2 linked regions of the Homo sapiens genome follow. The protein of the gene in region 2 purifies or fractionates together with the protein of the main gene of each other region. This does not show direct contact. Each region holds a gene or a part of one and is shown on either strand. Other genes may lie near its edges.

Region 1 (3,817 bases), on a different chromosome or scaffold from region 2:
GTTGACCACTTTTTGTCTCACTTCTTTCCCCAATTTTGTCATCCCATGGCTTTCTTCACGCACATAATTCCACACAATTCCACACAATCTCTTGCAACAAAGGGAAAACAGCTAATAAAAAAGGTTTTGTTTGCCTTTTCTCCCTGTTTAGCAAACTTTACTAAGATATTACACATGGCTGCTCAACTCCCCTACACTCACCACTCCCGAAAGAAACTGGACAACAACCACCTTTGGAGCAGTTTAATTTTCCCAAAAATTGTCTGTAGCTGGTCACTTCTTCAAATTCTTATAGTTCATGGTATCCAAAACATATCTGCAAAATAACTTTAACAAAAACTAGTTTCTGGTCGCAATCACACATTTGCAGTTTGGGAGAAAGGGCTGAAAAGGAGTAGGTTGCTTCTGTCAAAAGACCTGGTGATCCCCAACCCCGGATCAGGAAATAGAAACAAAATACATTCATGTATAATGTCTGTTAAAACATTATAGGAAGCCATTGTTTTGGATGAAGCTCCTGCAGTAGGCCCCGATAGACCCTATGTTCCATAGACTAAAAATCAAAATGAACTCACCCTGGCTAAAATTTTAGTCACCAAACTAAAACAAAGTTGTTATCTGACTTTCCAAGAAATCTAAAGAATGATAACAGCCAATTTATCAAACAGGCCAGTTTCAATCTTCAATAGGCATGATAATAAAGTTCCCTCTACTTTAATCCTTATACAAAAAGACTGAAGTAACTTCATTTTATCTGTTATTTTTCTATTTTTCTGTCTCCCTCTCTCCACTTTACAAGGAAAGCAATCCACTTTCTGTTGTTTCTGCTTTCATTAGTCCTATCTATAAAACCAACCCCCCTGCTTAATTCATTAGAACACTTATCCTATTTTATGAAATGAAGTGTTGCTTGATTCTAGAATCATAAACCCAACAGAGATCTTTAAACTAAACTTGTAATTTTGTCCTTTTGACAAGCCTAAAACTAAATCAAGTGTTGACTATATAGTTCTGCCTCTCCAAACAAGACAGTGATGTTCCTGAAAAAAATCTGTAGTTTTCAGAGTTGAGAAATACACCTTGAACGGAAAAAAACAGAGGACCAAGTTATCATTGTGGCCAAGGCCATGGGGAATAGTACACAAAATAAAGGATATATAAATGACATTTCCACATGTTCAACTAGTAATACTTAATAATTTCCATACAATTAAGTTTCACAACCATTCCTTGCTAACTAGATAACTATTCAGGATTTCCCCCAAAGAATTTGGACATACATTTTGTGGCAGATAATATGCATGTTACAGGTATTTTGTTGAGTCTGATCCTTATCCAAATGTTCAGGACTTTTCTGATTTTCTGGCTTGGTATTACTTGACTCTCATTCTTGTCAGTTCCCTCTTTTTCCAACATCTACCCCTGTTCTCAACCATGTTTACAAGCAGGAATACAGTTTTAAGACAAAATTACTTTCTCTCTGACAAAGTTTCTCCTGTTTACGGAGAAATTTTAAAAGTATAGGAAAGGAAATCCACATATACCACAATAATTGTCTGTAAAATTCAAGTTAAAATTAAGGAAGGATAATTGCAACTGGTTAAATAAAAAGAACCCAAACATGTAAAATTCACATGTAATAGTTTCCCAGGCAATTTCCCTAAACCCACCAGGAAAATGCTGAGCTTAATAATTGCCATCAGATTGCTCAGCAAAGGTGGCAGCGTCCCAAAAACCACTTCCCAATTCACAGGCAAGGAGTGCCCAGATTCTCAGAGAATAGGCATTCAGCTGTCAACATTCACTTCAAAAAAGGAAGAGGAAAAAAAAATTGCTTGGAATTAAAAGGAAAATCTAGCATGCCTATAATTTTCAAAATATTTTCTAAGAGGGCAAAAGGCCATAAAATAGTTCTTGTGCCTTTAAATGAGACAACTTGCTTCCAAGTCACTATTCCCACAACACAACAAAGGACATTACTGCTACTAGCTTACAAATAAAACTTTTCTTTCTTTACTTTTCCTTTGTCACTCACCTTCTGGCAGCTGGGCACCTATCGCTCATCATACACTTGTCCCTCCTCATTCTATTCAGCAAGTAATCTTGCCTTTCTCTTGGAATGTATTTTCCAAAAGGCTTTGTTTAGCTGCTATTTTAGTGACATTACAGAACGCATTAGTGAACCCAGATATTCATTCCTAACCAAACATTAAAAGTCTAGGTTAACGGATTGCAGAACAAATTTTCTTCTCTCAAAGCTCTGAAATCACCTTCAGTTATACCTATTAGAGAAATGATGCAAACTAGAAACTAAATTCTACAAATACTTTGAGTCAATTCTCAGTAATTTCTCAGTAAGTTTTAACTTTAAGATGGTTTTTCTGAACAAACAAAACTGTTTTCTGTCTATTTTACTCCTATCCATAAAGGATTTTTTGATGGTTAACCCATTGCATCTACTAATCCATCATGATAATGTAGTAAACAAATCTAAAGTGCCTAGTACAGAGCCGAGCTCATAACAAGTCATCTATAAATAAATGGTAAGTATTATGATCCCTTGTCAATTAAAGATCTGTAAACCAACACCTTAAGGTATTATGGTAAAAGAAACCTAAGTATTTGTCAACAGTGGCTAATCATCACCTAGATTTATAAATTTACATTCTAAAGCTGAACCCTGAAGTAGACATCTTCTGGCCCAGAAATGCCCTCCTTTTCTCAGAGAACACCCCCCCACAACCCTAACACACACACACACACACACACCCACAACCCTAACACACACACCCACACCCACAACCCTCACACACACACACACACACACACACACACAGCCCTGGCAGCCATATTTCTAAAATACAGTGAGGCCTCAGCACCCCAGGCACTGGACCAGAGATGGATACCTGACCCAAATTCAGCCAATCAGACTTTCTTCTTAAAATTTGGAACTGGAGGCTGAGTGCGGTGGCTTACACCTGTAATCCCTGCACTTTGGGAGAAAGAGGTGGGCGGATCACCAGGTCAGAAGACGGAGACCATTCTGGCTAACATGGTGAAACCGTGTCTCTACTAAAAATACAAAAAATTAGCCAGGCGTGGTGGCACATGCCTGTGGTTCCAGCTACTCAGGAGGCTGAGGCAGGAGAATCGCTTGAACCTGGGAGGCAGAGGTTGCAGTGAGCCAAGATCGCGCCACTGTACTTCAGCCTGGGCGACAGAGTGAGACTCTGTCTCACAAAAAAAAAAAAAAATGTGGAACTGCAATACAGAAGCAACTGGTTAGTCTACGTAACTAATAAAACTAATGGCAAATAAACTAGGGAGCTGTCATTTTCTATCCTCTGTAAAGAAGCAAGAAAATCTTATCTGCTGAGAAAATAATAACTCAAACAGAGAAGCAGCAGAAATTGGTGATTATAAGACACCAGATAGAGAGAAAACTAACAGCACCTTCTCTGAGTCCTCACAGTTTCCAATTTCTGGTTCAAGTCCTTTGGGAGACTTGACCACATTCTGTCCCTTTTGTTCTTTGAAAGGTCCCTATGTCCTTGGTGAAAAACTCTTTTCTACTTAAGCTCATTATAAAGAGCTTATATACTTGTAACCTAGAGACAAAAGGTTAAGGCAGGGCCATTTTCTACATCTCTTTCCCTGTAACAGAGGGTGGGAAGCAGAGTCATAGAATAAGTAGCTCTTTACTACGAATAACTTATTACCAAGTCTCAAAGACCAGAGACTTCACAGTCTAAAACTTCTTAACTTCCTCCTGCACACTGCCAACTACCAGAGGTGGATCTATGTCAACAATGGAAAT
Region 2 (3,817 bases):
CCCACCTCAGCCTCCGAGTAGCTGGGATTACAGGTGAGCACCACCATGCCCAGCTAATTTTTGTATTTTTAGTAGAGACAGAGTTTTGCCATGTTAGCCAGACTGCTCTCGAACTCCTGGCCTCAAGTGATCTGCCAGCCTCGGCCTCCCAAAGTGCTGGGATTACAGGTGTGAGCCACTGCGCCCGGCTGTTTTTGTTTCTGTTTTTTTTTTTGTTTTTTGTTTTTAATAGCTTGACAGCAGCTTATTAATCACATGTACTCACAGCCCTGGGGGGTGGGGGAAAGGCGGGGAGGCATACCACACGGGGCCACACGGGGGCTGTGGGCTGCACTTGAGAACACAGTGAACAGCCAGGAAGGTTAAGTGCCCACTGGTTCCAAAGGGAGCTGTGTCCAGAGGCTGTTCCCTTAACCACTAGGCTACATTGCCGCCCTTGCCCATAATTTATCAATAAATTTGCACACAATGGGGGCATGCACTAAAATATCATTTCCTGATGGGATGCATGGTCACACAGACACAAAGCCACCCCTGCCATTTAGAGAGTCAACCTCTCACGGTCACCAGTTTCACTGGAAACCCATCTACTGAGCAGCTGGTTGCCAGGACCTGTGCCAGGGCCCTTCATACATGCTCGGCTGTGCTAGCCCATCTCTCATGAGCGCTCTGAGGCACAGAGATGACGTGACTTGGTTCAGGCCACACAACAGATTCATGGCAATGAAACAGCCGGAAAAGGCAGAGCGGGTAGCCTGTGGGCTTTGGAGTCAGACAGACTTAGGTGGCTGTGTGACCTTGGGTAGATCCCTCGACCTCTCTGAGGGCTCTGTAAAATGGGGCTAATGGTAGGAAGGGTGTGGTGGCTCACACCTGTAATCCCAGCACTTTGGGAGGCCGAGGCAGGTGGATCACCTGAGGTCAGGCGTTTGAGACAAGCCTGACCAACATGGTGAAATCCTGTCTCTACTAAAAATACAAAAAATTAGCTGGGCGTGGTGGCAAGCACCTGTAATCCCAGATACTCGGGAGGCTGAGGCAGAAGAATTGCTTGAACCCAGGAGGCGGAGGTTGCAGTGAGCCGAGATGGTGCCAGCGCACTCCAGCCTGGGCGACAGAGTGAGACTCCATTTCAAAATAAATAACTAAATAAAAAGGGCTAACAGTACCTACCCCATAGGGCTGCTGGGGAAATCAAACAAGGTTGTATCTACAGGGCCTCTCCCTACCCATTTTGTGCCGGCACACAGTAGGCCCACTGTTCTTTGGGTTGTTGTTACTACAACTGGGGAAGAGTCTCAAGGAGTGGGGGAAGGAGCAAGCCCTAGGGAGTGGCCTTTCAGAATGGCCCCAGCATTGGGGTGCCCACCTGCTTCCTGCTGGGGGAAGGAAAGATGCACCAGCCTGCCCGCCTGCTCAGTTACCTCCTGCCGCATCACCTCCAGGCTGGCCTCGCCCTTCAGCAGCCTCTGCCGGAGGCCCAGGGTCTCCCGCCTGCTCTCCTTCTCTGCCCGCTCGCCCAGCGCCAGGCGGCCCTGCAGCTCCGCCAGCTCCCGGCCCAGTCTGGTGTTCTCACTGTCCAGCATCTTCATCTGTGAGAGCACGGGAATGGCAGCAGGTTCAGCTCTGCCCCTGTACCCTCCCAGTTCTGGCCCAAGGCCACTTGGTACCTACTGCTGTAGGGACACATGTATCAAATACCACCCCACATCCACTGGGAGCCGGCCCCTACACAACCACACTGAACTTGGGCGATGCCAGGCACTTGGGCACCAGTGGCCTGTTTACCACTTAATCAATGGGCCAAAACTACCTTTCATAAAGGGGTGGGTATAATAGAAGGAGGGCTCAGCCCTTAGCAGACCAGGAGTTCACAGGCAGGAACCACAGCTCCCTGGGTTATCTTTCCCCTCTACGATGGCGATGAACGTTTTTGGAGCGCTTACCATGTGTCCAGTCCTGTTCTAAGCACTTCAGTTATATTAACTCGTTTAATCTTGGTACAATGCTATATGAGGTAGGTAGTAACATTATCCCTATCTAACAGATGAGAAAACTGAGCCTCAGAGTGTCAGAGTAACCTCCCCAAAGTCACACAGCCCACACACACCAGACTGGGATTCGATCTGAGACAACGGCAATGTTCTAAGCCCCTATTTCCCCACAGGAGCAGGGAGGGGTACTGCCTACCTCCCCCATGTGCTACAGCAGGGGTAACAGGAGAGGCCGTAGCATGCAACGCGTCCAGCAAAAGCTGGCACGCAAATGCCAGCTCCTTTCCGGGAGTCTTGTGGTTTCTCAGGAAGGGGCCTGGGTGAAGGGGGCTGTGGTATCTCTGGCTATCAGAGTATCAGAATATCTCTGGCTATCCAGTTGTGATCTCTTTTTTTGTAATTAAAAACAATTTTTTTAATTAAAAAAATTTGGGGGGGCCAGGCATCGTGGCTCATGCCTGTAATCCCAGCACTTTGGGAGGCCAAGGTGGGTGGATCACCTGACATCAGGAGTTCGAGACCAGCCTGGCCCACATGGTGAAACCCTGTCTCTACTAAAAATACAAAAAAATTAGCCAGGTGTGGTGGCGGGCATCTGTAATCCCAGCTACTTGGGAGGCTGAGTCAGGAGAATTACTTGAACCCGGGAGGCGGAGGTTGCAGTGAGCCGAGATTGCGCCACTGCACTCCAGCCTGGGCAACAAGAGTGAAACTCCATCTCAGAAAGTAAATAAATAAATAAAATAAAAATTAAAAGTTTAAAAACTTTTTTTAGAGTCAGGGTCTTGCTTTGTCGCCCAGGCTGGAGTGCGGTGATGCGATCACAGCTCACTGCAGCCTTGACTTCCTGGGCTCAAGGGATACTCCCACCTCAGCCTCCCAAGTAGCTGGGACTCCAGGAGCGTGTCACCACACCTAGCTATTTTTTAAATTTTTTGTAGAGACTGGTTCTCACTATGTTGCCTGGGCTGGTCTTGAACTCCTAGGCTCAAGCAGTCCTCCCAACTTGGCCTCCCAAAGCATGAGATTAAAGGCATGAGCCATCACAGCTGGCTAATTTTTCGTATTTTTAGTAGAGACAGGTTTTCACCATGTTACCCAGGCTGGTCTCGAACTCCTGGGCTCAAGCAATCCACTGGCCTCCGCCTCCCAAAGTGCTGAGATTATAGGTGTGAGCCACTGCGCCTGGCCTGGTTGTGATATCTCTGGGTGAGGCAGCGCCTAGGGGCTGAATGAGGCCATTTCCTGTTCTTTGCATCTTCTAGAGTGAGAAGCCTGAACCCACAGTGTCCAGGCCAGTGCCCAGTAGACAGCAGGTGCTTCTTCAATACATGCTGCTGTTGAGTTTGCAGATCATCGAATTCACGGGTCAGCGAACTACAGCTCACAGGCCAAATTCAGCCCATCTCCCGTTTCTACAAGGGTCTGAGTTAAGGATTTTTTTTTTTTTTTACATTTTTAAATCATCGAAAATGGATCATTTCTAAAGGAAGAACAACATTTCTTGACACATGAAAATGACAGAAAATTCACATTTCAGTGTCCCTAAACAAAGTTTTACTGGAACCCACACCCCTCTGTTCATGCACTGTTTGGGACTGCTTTCTCACTACCCCAGCAGAGTCAAGTAGTTGCAACAGAGACTGTGTGGCCCGTAAAGCTGGAAATATTGACCATTTGGGCTCTTTACAAAAAACCATTTGCCAACCTCTGACCTAGTTCACAAAATCTGTACCTTTTGTTGTTTGCAGATTCCTTTGAGAACTGGACAAGGACACCAGCTCCTCTCCTTGCAGAAATGTGAGCCTGAGTGTGCACACAAA

The links.
Region 1: the proteins of CROCC (region 2) and SRBD1 purify together in Homo sapiens (affinity purification with mass spectrometry; one large-scale study listed by BioGRID and IntAct). This does not show direct contact.

The regions. Positions count from the first base shown.
Region 1 is NC_000002.12:45,594,183-45,597,999, forward strand, and holds part of SRBD1 (S1 RNA-binding domain-containing protein 1), read right to left. Parts: intron 1-3,817.
Region 2 is NC_000001.11:16,956,358-16,960,174, reverse strand, and holds part of CROCC (rootletin), read right to left. Parts: intron 1,593-3,817; coding exon 1,425-1,592; intron 1-1,424. UniProt on the Homo sapiens protein: Major structural component of the ciliary rootlet, a cytoskeletal-like structure in ciliated cells which originates from the basal body at the proximal end of a cilium and extends proximally toward the cell nucleus.